Homo sapiens: one gene and its partner. The protein of the gene in region 2 interacts with the protein of the main gene of each other region in a pairwise test. Each region holds a gene or a part of one and is shown on either strand. Other genes may lie near its edges.

Region 1 (3,750 bases), on a different chromosome or scaffold from region 2:
TGGAGCTCCTTGGGCAGAATGGATAGAAACTGCTCCAGCACCAGCAGATCCAAAATCTGCTCCTTTGTGCTCACATGTGGCCTCAACCACTGGTAGCAAAGTTCCTGGAGTCGAGTAAGAGCCTCCCTTGGTCCAGGGGTCTCTTGGTAGCACAGCTGTCGAAAGTGCCTTCGGAAGATTTCCCTTGCCAGTGGATTACTGCGTTTCAGTCTGGATTCCTGCCATTGAAGGTGACTTTTTGCTTCCACTTTCATTGTCAGAAGTTCTTCCCATGCCTCGGGAACTTGAACACCCAGGGATAAAACCTCCTTTGAGTTTGTATTCATCTTGACCTTGAACAGCTTAAAAGGTACCCTCCAGCTGGAGCTATGCTTCAAGACAAACCTTGGAGGCGCTTGCCTAAGCAGTAAAAATAAATTATTTATATAGAAAAATGATAATAGCTGATGACAGAAACTGATAATACAAGCAATTATCATAGGCCCTAAAGCTCTTCTCTGAAAAGTGATTTGGTGACCAAAGGATGGAAATAATGGAAATATATATATTCATAATGTGCTAAGAGCATAAGCTTTTAAGTTACCCAGATATGGGTTTTCTTTCTTTCTTTTTTTTTTAAATGGGGAATTTCACTCTGTTTCCCAGGCTGGAGTGCAGTGGCATAATCACAGCTCACTGCAACCTCAAACTCCTGGGTTTAAGTGATCCTCCCACCTTGGCTTCCCAAAGTGCTGGGATTACGTCAGCCACCACAGCTGACCCAGACCTAGGTTTTATTCTGATCCTAATATTTACTAGTTGTGTGACCTTGTGCCAAGTTTTTAAATCTTCTTTCAATCTTGATTTCTTTATGTGAAGAAGAAATAGCAATAATGCTTCACAGAGTTCATGGAGGAAAACAGCCCATGAATTAGGGACTGCACCGATCACTCAGAAAGTCTGAATAAAAAGTTTGAACTCACTGTATAAACATCAACTTAGAGAAAGAATAAATGGAAATATTGTTACTGTCGACTAAATGAACGAACCAACATTTACTTTACTATTTACTTCAGTTTTCTTAATCTTCAAAACAACCATTTAAGGTTAGTATTATTTTCACTAAATTTACAGAAAGAAAGGCTTAGGTGGATTCCAAGTCCTGGAGCTTTCCACACCGCCCTGCTGCTACTGAAGAATAACAGTCAACACTGCACAAGTCTACAATATGCTTTCAGATACAAGACTATATTTCATCCTCACAATTACCCACTGAGGTTTTATTATAATAATTATTTCACTAGATAAGAAATGGAAGCCAGGGAAAGTTAAGTAGATTGCCCAAGGTCAACTTCTTTTTGAGGACAATCCTAAGAAGCCAAAGAAGCCCAAGGGAAAAGTTTTCTCCACAGACGCAGGAAGCACCTGAAACCCATGGGGGTGTTCCCAAAATGTGTGTCTCCAAAATGCCAGGAAGCACAGCGCAGCAGCTGAATTCCAGCTTGAAAGGCCCTATGGCAGACATCTGGGGAATCTGAATTGGGAGGTGGAGAGAAGTACAGGGAGACCCAGAATATGCCCTTTAACGGGCTCCTCAGTGATTTGTATGTATTATAAGGTTTGAGAATCAATGAACTAAGGAAAAGGGAATCGGGAACTGCTACATTCTGCGCTTGAAAACCAGTCCATTCAACGCCCCTTAATTTGCTTTCAGAATCTAGAGGTAAGAGGGTATACAGGTTCTCCATCGTGAAGGCTGCCAAAGTCTTAATTGTCCTTAACTTCCTCTCCCGGGTGTTTCTTTCCCTGAGTCCTAAGCCTGTTGTCGTTATTCACCGAGGTGACCCTTCAGCCTCGCAGTCCTCCTACAACCCTTTCTTGTACAATGTCCCCACAGCTGGGGATGACCACTCTGGTCTAGGGGACGCCCGAAGCCGCCCGGCACTGACCGCCGCCCCCTCCTCCGGCTCCCACTTCCCAGCGGCTGAGGTTCACTTTCCACACCCCTTTTCCAGCCCCACCCTCCCTGACCCGCCTCCATTCCCGGTCCCCACAGCCAACTCACGAGACCCGGAACGCGCAAGGAGGGAGAGGGGGTTACCGGCCCGGCGTTGCTAGAAGCGCGGCACGAACAATGGCCGGGCAGGGAACAAAGATGCCGACCTCTCCTCGAAGGCGGACGGAGCAGAGGCACTTCCGGGCCGGTCTAGGATTCCATGTCTCGATGTCCGGCGTTCACCTTGCTTCGGACTCAACCCCCAATTTCCTGGCGTCCAGTTCTTTTTCAGCAGTGAATCACATAATCAGAATGTCATACGTGTGTGGGCCGCACACAGGTTTTAAACGGAAAACGTTGATGAAGCATAGACCGTTAACTATTGAAAATGATGATTTTTAAAAGCATTTTTAAAATTAATACATTATTTATGGTTTAAAAACCCTCAGACAATACCAAAATTAATAAAGTAAAATGTCAAACCCCACCTACCCCTCCTTAGTCCCACTCCCCGAGGCAGCCACTGTCACCGTTAGCCTGGAATTTGTATATCATTGTGATCCTCTCTCACACACACAATGGCATTATTTTATATTTAGCCTTTTCTCCCCCGCTTATTTTAACGTTTTCACTTCATGTATCCTAAAAAGCTTTACTCATCATGTAAGTCTAACTTATTGTATGGGTGCATAACAGTCCATAAAGCAATTTATTTGTCCAGGCCCCTATGTATTCTTTATTTAGGCATCTGCCTGCGTGCTTGCCTTCTTTCCTCCCTCCCTTCCTCTTTTCCTACCTTCCTCCCTCCCTTCCTGCCTTTCTCCCATCCTCCTTTCCTTTTCTTTCTTTCTTGTTTTTGTTTTTTGTTGTTTTTTTTTTTTGCTGTAAAAGTTTTCTGGAGTTTTAGTAATAATAATACAAAATCAAACCAAAACCAATTAAATAAATTTGTCACCCAGGCTGGAGTGCAGTGGCACCATCATAGCTCACTGCAGACTGCAACTCCTGGCTCAAGCAATCCTGCCTCAGCCTCCTGAGTAGCTGGGACTACAGTCACATACCACCATGCCCAGCATTTTTTTTGGGGGAGGGGGGTAGAGACCAGGGTCTCGCTTTGTTGGCCAGGCTGGTCTCTAACTCCTGACCTCAAGTGATCCTCCCACCTCCGCCTGGCAAAGTGCTGGTACAGGCATGAGCCACCATGCCCAGCCTTAAATAAATTTTATTGGTACAAAAGAGCGTAATTGTAGGTACTGTTAGTCATTCATCAGTTTTACTATGCCAACCAGAATGATGGTGTCACGTAGATTAAACTATATTCTGTTTGTTTTAACAGAATCTTATCATTTATTTTATTAAAGCAGTAAGAAAGTATCTTGTGTGTTAATGGAGGCTCCATGATCTGTTTTAACTCCAAAACGGTAGTAGCTCGGAAAATTTCTTTATTATTTTCCTCAACCTAGCCTTCTGAGGGCATTAAATAAACCCAAGCTTTATGCTTTACTTCTTTTTCTTTCAAATATCCAATAAGTATATAATCAATAAGAGCACTAACATGCAGAAAATTTGCTCAAAAATCCTCATCACTTTTTCCACCATACCATGTTCACTTGCAAATCCCTCATTACAAACTTTCCTAACAAACTATGAAATGAGAGTAAATGCTCAATTTCTCTTGGACTTGAATAGACTGTTTAAATATGTTATTCTTTTCCATTTTGTATGACCATCTGTGACAAGTAAATGCAATTTAATATTTGTATGAAACTTCTTAA
Region 2 (3,750 bases):
CTCTATGCGATGCCATCATTTTGAACACCTTTTTGAAACAATTGCTTTTATGTTTTACATAAAGGGGACAGAAGAGGACAGCCCCTGGCCATGGCTGCCCTAAGTGTGAAGCCTCTGCTCTGAGGCCTTGGAACAGGTGTGTGTGTGTGGCTTCCTGGGGTCCTTGTGCCTCCATCTCCAGCCCAGAAAGGACAGGGAGGCCCTGAGACCCCCTGCCTTATGGGGCTGGGCCCAGACCACGATGCCACTGGGGCCTTACCTGCTTCCTGCAGGGGCTTGAAACACCAAGGCACTCCAGGGATCCTGGAGTCAAAGCAGCAGCCCCGGTTGTTGCACTCCTTGGGGGTGACATGGGGGTAGCCGCAGTCCACCCTGTCCTTGGCTGGCACGGCACACTGGTTTGCAGCTGTCCCAGACAAAGCCCTGTCAGCTGCCAGAGCCCTTGCTGGGCTGCGGTGAGTGTGTTTGCTTCACTTTGCAAGTTTGCATCCTCCCGCTCCGCCCCACCCCGCCGAGTTCAACCACTGCTGAAACCCTCGCCCTTAGGAAGATGCACTTTCCCTGTGAATATTTAAAGAGAGGCAGTCTGTTAAATGCTCAGCTCGGGGACTCTGGCCATTTGCCTAAGTGTCTTTCTCCTTGGCACGCTCTTATCACCTTCTCGGGAAGTCACATACGGACCTGGGTACCTTCCAGCTGGCAGGAACCCCTGGGGAATCTGGGGTCCCTTGAACCCAGAAACAAAGTTACCCTTCATTGTTTGACCAACAAAACCTTGCCCCTTTGTTTTAAATGAAAACCGTGACAGGAGAGGCACACGCCATAGAGATCATTGCAACGCATGCTGCCTGCTTTTCACTTTTTTCTGCATCTCCCCTTCCTGAATTGTTGAGCATGTCCCACCCTCCCGGGACATCCTTCAGTCCCCAATATTTTCATGTTTCAGGCAAGCCTCTATGTCTGTATGTGCAGCAGAAGTTCACTGCGTTTCATTAACGAACTGAGTATTTCCTTAGGAAAATGGCAATCACGTGCAGTGTCTTACATTCCCTTCTCTTGCTCCCAGTCCGTAATTGCTTATCCTCCTGGCATCCAAACTTCGCTCACACTGGAATCAGCTGCAGAGCTTTAAAAATGACTGACGTTGGCTGGGCATGGTGGCTTACACCTGTAATTCCAGCACTTTGGGAGGCCAAGGCAGGAGGATCACTTGAGGCCAGGAGTTTGAGACCAGCTTGGCCAACATAGCGAAACTCCATCTCTACTAAAAATCCAAAAAATTAGCTGGGCATGGTGGTGCATGCCTGTAATCCCAGCTACTTGAAGCCGAGGCACAAGAATTGCTTGAACCCAGGAGGCGGAGGTTGCAGTGAGCTGAGATTGTGCCACTGCACTCCAGCAGTGAGTGACAAAGCAAGGCTATCTCAAAACAAAACAGCTGAGGCCTGGATCTTGCCTGGAGATGCCCTGATGTAACTGGTGTGCCCCAAGCATTAGGATTTTTAAAGCTCTCCAGGTGATTCTAATGGGCTGCAAGTTCGGGAACCACTGCCTTTGACCCTGCTCAGAAGACACCCAGATAAAAGCCATGCCCTCATTCCTTCAAACTTGGGTTAATGGAGCAGCCACACCCCATGGCAGGGTTGCTATGCAATGGCTAAATGAACCTTGTGCCTGCCGGTATTGACAGTGTTCTGAAGTCAGGGTTTTTCTCCTGCATCTTTCCTTTTTCTTTGTAAATGTGGAACAATGCATAAAGACCTATATTGTAATTTAGAAATCTCCAGCAAAGATGGCTATGGGGTCATAGGGGATGGGCTCAGGCTCAAACCCTGATTTCAACACAGACTGGGCAGGGCTGCCTTGGATAAGTTGTTAACTTTCTCTGAGCCTCGGTTTCCTTGTCTGTGAAATGGGGACAATAAAGACCCACTTCAAAGGGCTAGCGCAGGAAAAAGTGTATATGTGACAGGTGGCCATTATTAAATGAATGCAGAATCCCCCCTTATCCTGGATCCCTTCCCTTCACGCCCACCCTGCCACCGGGGCAGTCAGGGCAGTACTCACACAGGCCCACGTACTCCTCAGCAGAGCTGGAGGACAGCAAGGCCAGGACCAGCCCCAGCATGCAGAGCGCTCTGGCAGCCATGACCACCGTGGGCTCCGGGACGCAGCTCAGGACTCGCTTCATGGTCCAGGAGGCCTCATTTATGCACCGTTGTTTGCACAGCTGCTCTGGATTGTTTGCTTGGGGAAGGCTCTCCCTCCTGGCTGTGGCTGCTCCTGTTCTCTCCTGCATGCCTTTGTCAAGCTCCCAGACAGTTTTTCTCTCCCAAAGGGGAGAGGTCAGTTCAGCCCCCACTGTTTTGGCAGCAAGCGGTAAGGGCGGATTCCAGTTCTGGTTCCGGGTCCTCTACTGGGGAGCGGATGTGTGTCAATTGCCCTCCTAGCCTGGCCTGGTGTAGTGTGCAGGAGCCATGTGGGGTGGCAGGACCAGGGTGTGGTGTCCGTTCCATCTCAGCCTCCCAGCCAGAAGCCCTCAGAACACCCCTGGTCCCATGACAAGAGAGCCCCAGGCTGCTTCATCCCAGATCGGCCTCGGAGACAGGCAGCTCTGAGTGAGTCAGGACCCTGCGGCTCTCTCACAACTCCTGAAACACAGAGATTCCTTGTCTTTCCTTTTTGCTTTCTCCCCTAAAAATTAGTAACTACATTTTAATAAGTGGATGAAATGAATTGATTGAAAATATGTTAGTAAAAACATGGTACACATAATTGATTTTTAAAATCAAATAATACAAAAGAGCCTTTCCTATCCAGAGGCATCTATTGATCTATTGTGAACACTTTTTTAGGTATCCTTTCAGAATTTTTCTCTCTGGATCTAAGCACGTTTTTTTGGTTTGTTTTTGTTTGTTTGTTTGTTTTGTTTTTTTTTTGTTTTTTTTTTGTTTTTTTTTTTTGGAGACAGGGTCTTGCTCTGTTACCCAGGCTGGAGTGCAGTGGCACAATCTCAACTCACTGAGACCCCCGCCCTCGCGGGGCTCAAGTGATCCTCCCACCTCAGCCTCCTAAGTAGCTGGGCCACAGGCATGTGTCCAGCTAATATTTTGTATTTTTTTAGAGACCAGGTGTCGCCATGTTGGCCAGGCTGGTCTCAGACTCCTGGACTCAAGTGATCTGCCTTCCTTGGCCTCCCAAAGTGTCAGGATTACAGGCATGAGCCACTGCACTCGGCCACATTTTTAACACAAACAGGAACTGACTCTCCACCTTTGCCCAGCGTGCTCTTTTAAAAACTAAAGACTACATCTCAGGAATTGTTTTATAACAACATATCAGATGAGACAGCGATGATTCTATCCATTTTCCAGAGGAAGAAACTAAGACTCAACATTTCCGGTGCCTATCAGAGGTTACTCCAGTGTCCCTGGTATAGCTGGTATTTAACCCACTCCCAGGACCCTAAGCCTCCGCCCTCGGCATCCGCAGCATCCCCCAACCCCCCAACCTCCTGCAGTGGACTGGCTGGTAGTGGGCAAGAGACTAATCTCATTCCAGGAAAACGGGCCCCTAGATTTTGTGTTCTCCGTGTTTCTTTTCCAGGGAGGCATTTTGATGACCCCCACTGGCCCTTCCAGGAGCCTCTGTCTGAAGGGTGGACTTGGTTTATCACCCCGAGAAATGGGAGCGCCTGGCTGCTTGGATTTAGCCTGCAGCTGGGGTCCCCGGTGGTGTGTGCAGGGCGGC

The links.
Region 1: the proteins of TFF3 (region 2) and ZSCAN9 interact in a two-hybrid assay, tested with the Homo sapiens proteins (one study listed by BioGRID).

Annotation. Positions count from the first base shown.
Region 1 is NC_000006.12:28,223,661-28,227,410, reverse strand, and holds the start of ZSCAN9 (zinc finger and SCAN domain-containing protein 9), read right to left. Parts: upstream 2,137-3,750; 5' UTR 2,045-2,136; exon of another isoform or gene 1,728-2,044; coding exon of another isoform or gene 1,405-1,727; exon of another isoform or gene 480-1,404; coding exon of another isoform or gene 327-479; coding exon 1-326. UniProt on the Homo sapiens protein: May be involved in transcriptional regulation.
Region 2 is NC_000021.9:42,313,226-42,316,975, forward strand, and holds the start of TFF3 (trefoil factor 3 precursor), read right to left. Parts: upstream 2,185-3,750; 5' UTR 2,150-2,184; coding exon 2,068-2,149; intron 407-2,067; coding exon 260-406; intron 1-259. UniProt on the Homo sapiens protein: Involved in the maintenance and repair of the intestinal mucosa. Promotes the mobility of epithelial cells in healing processes (motogen).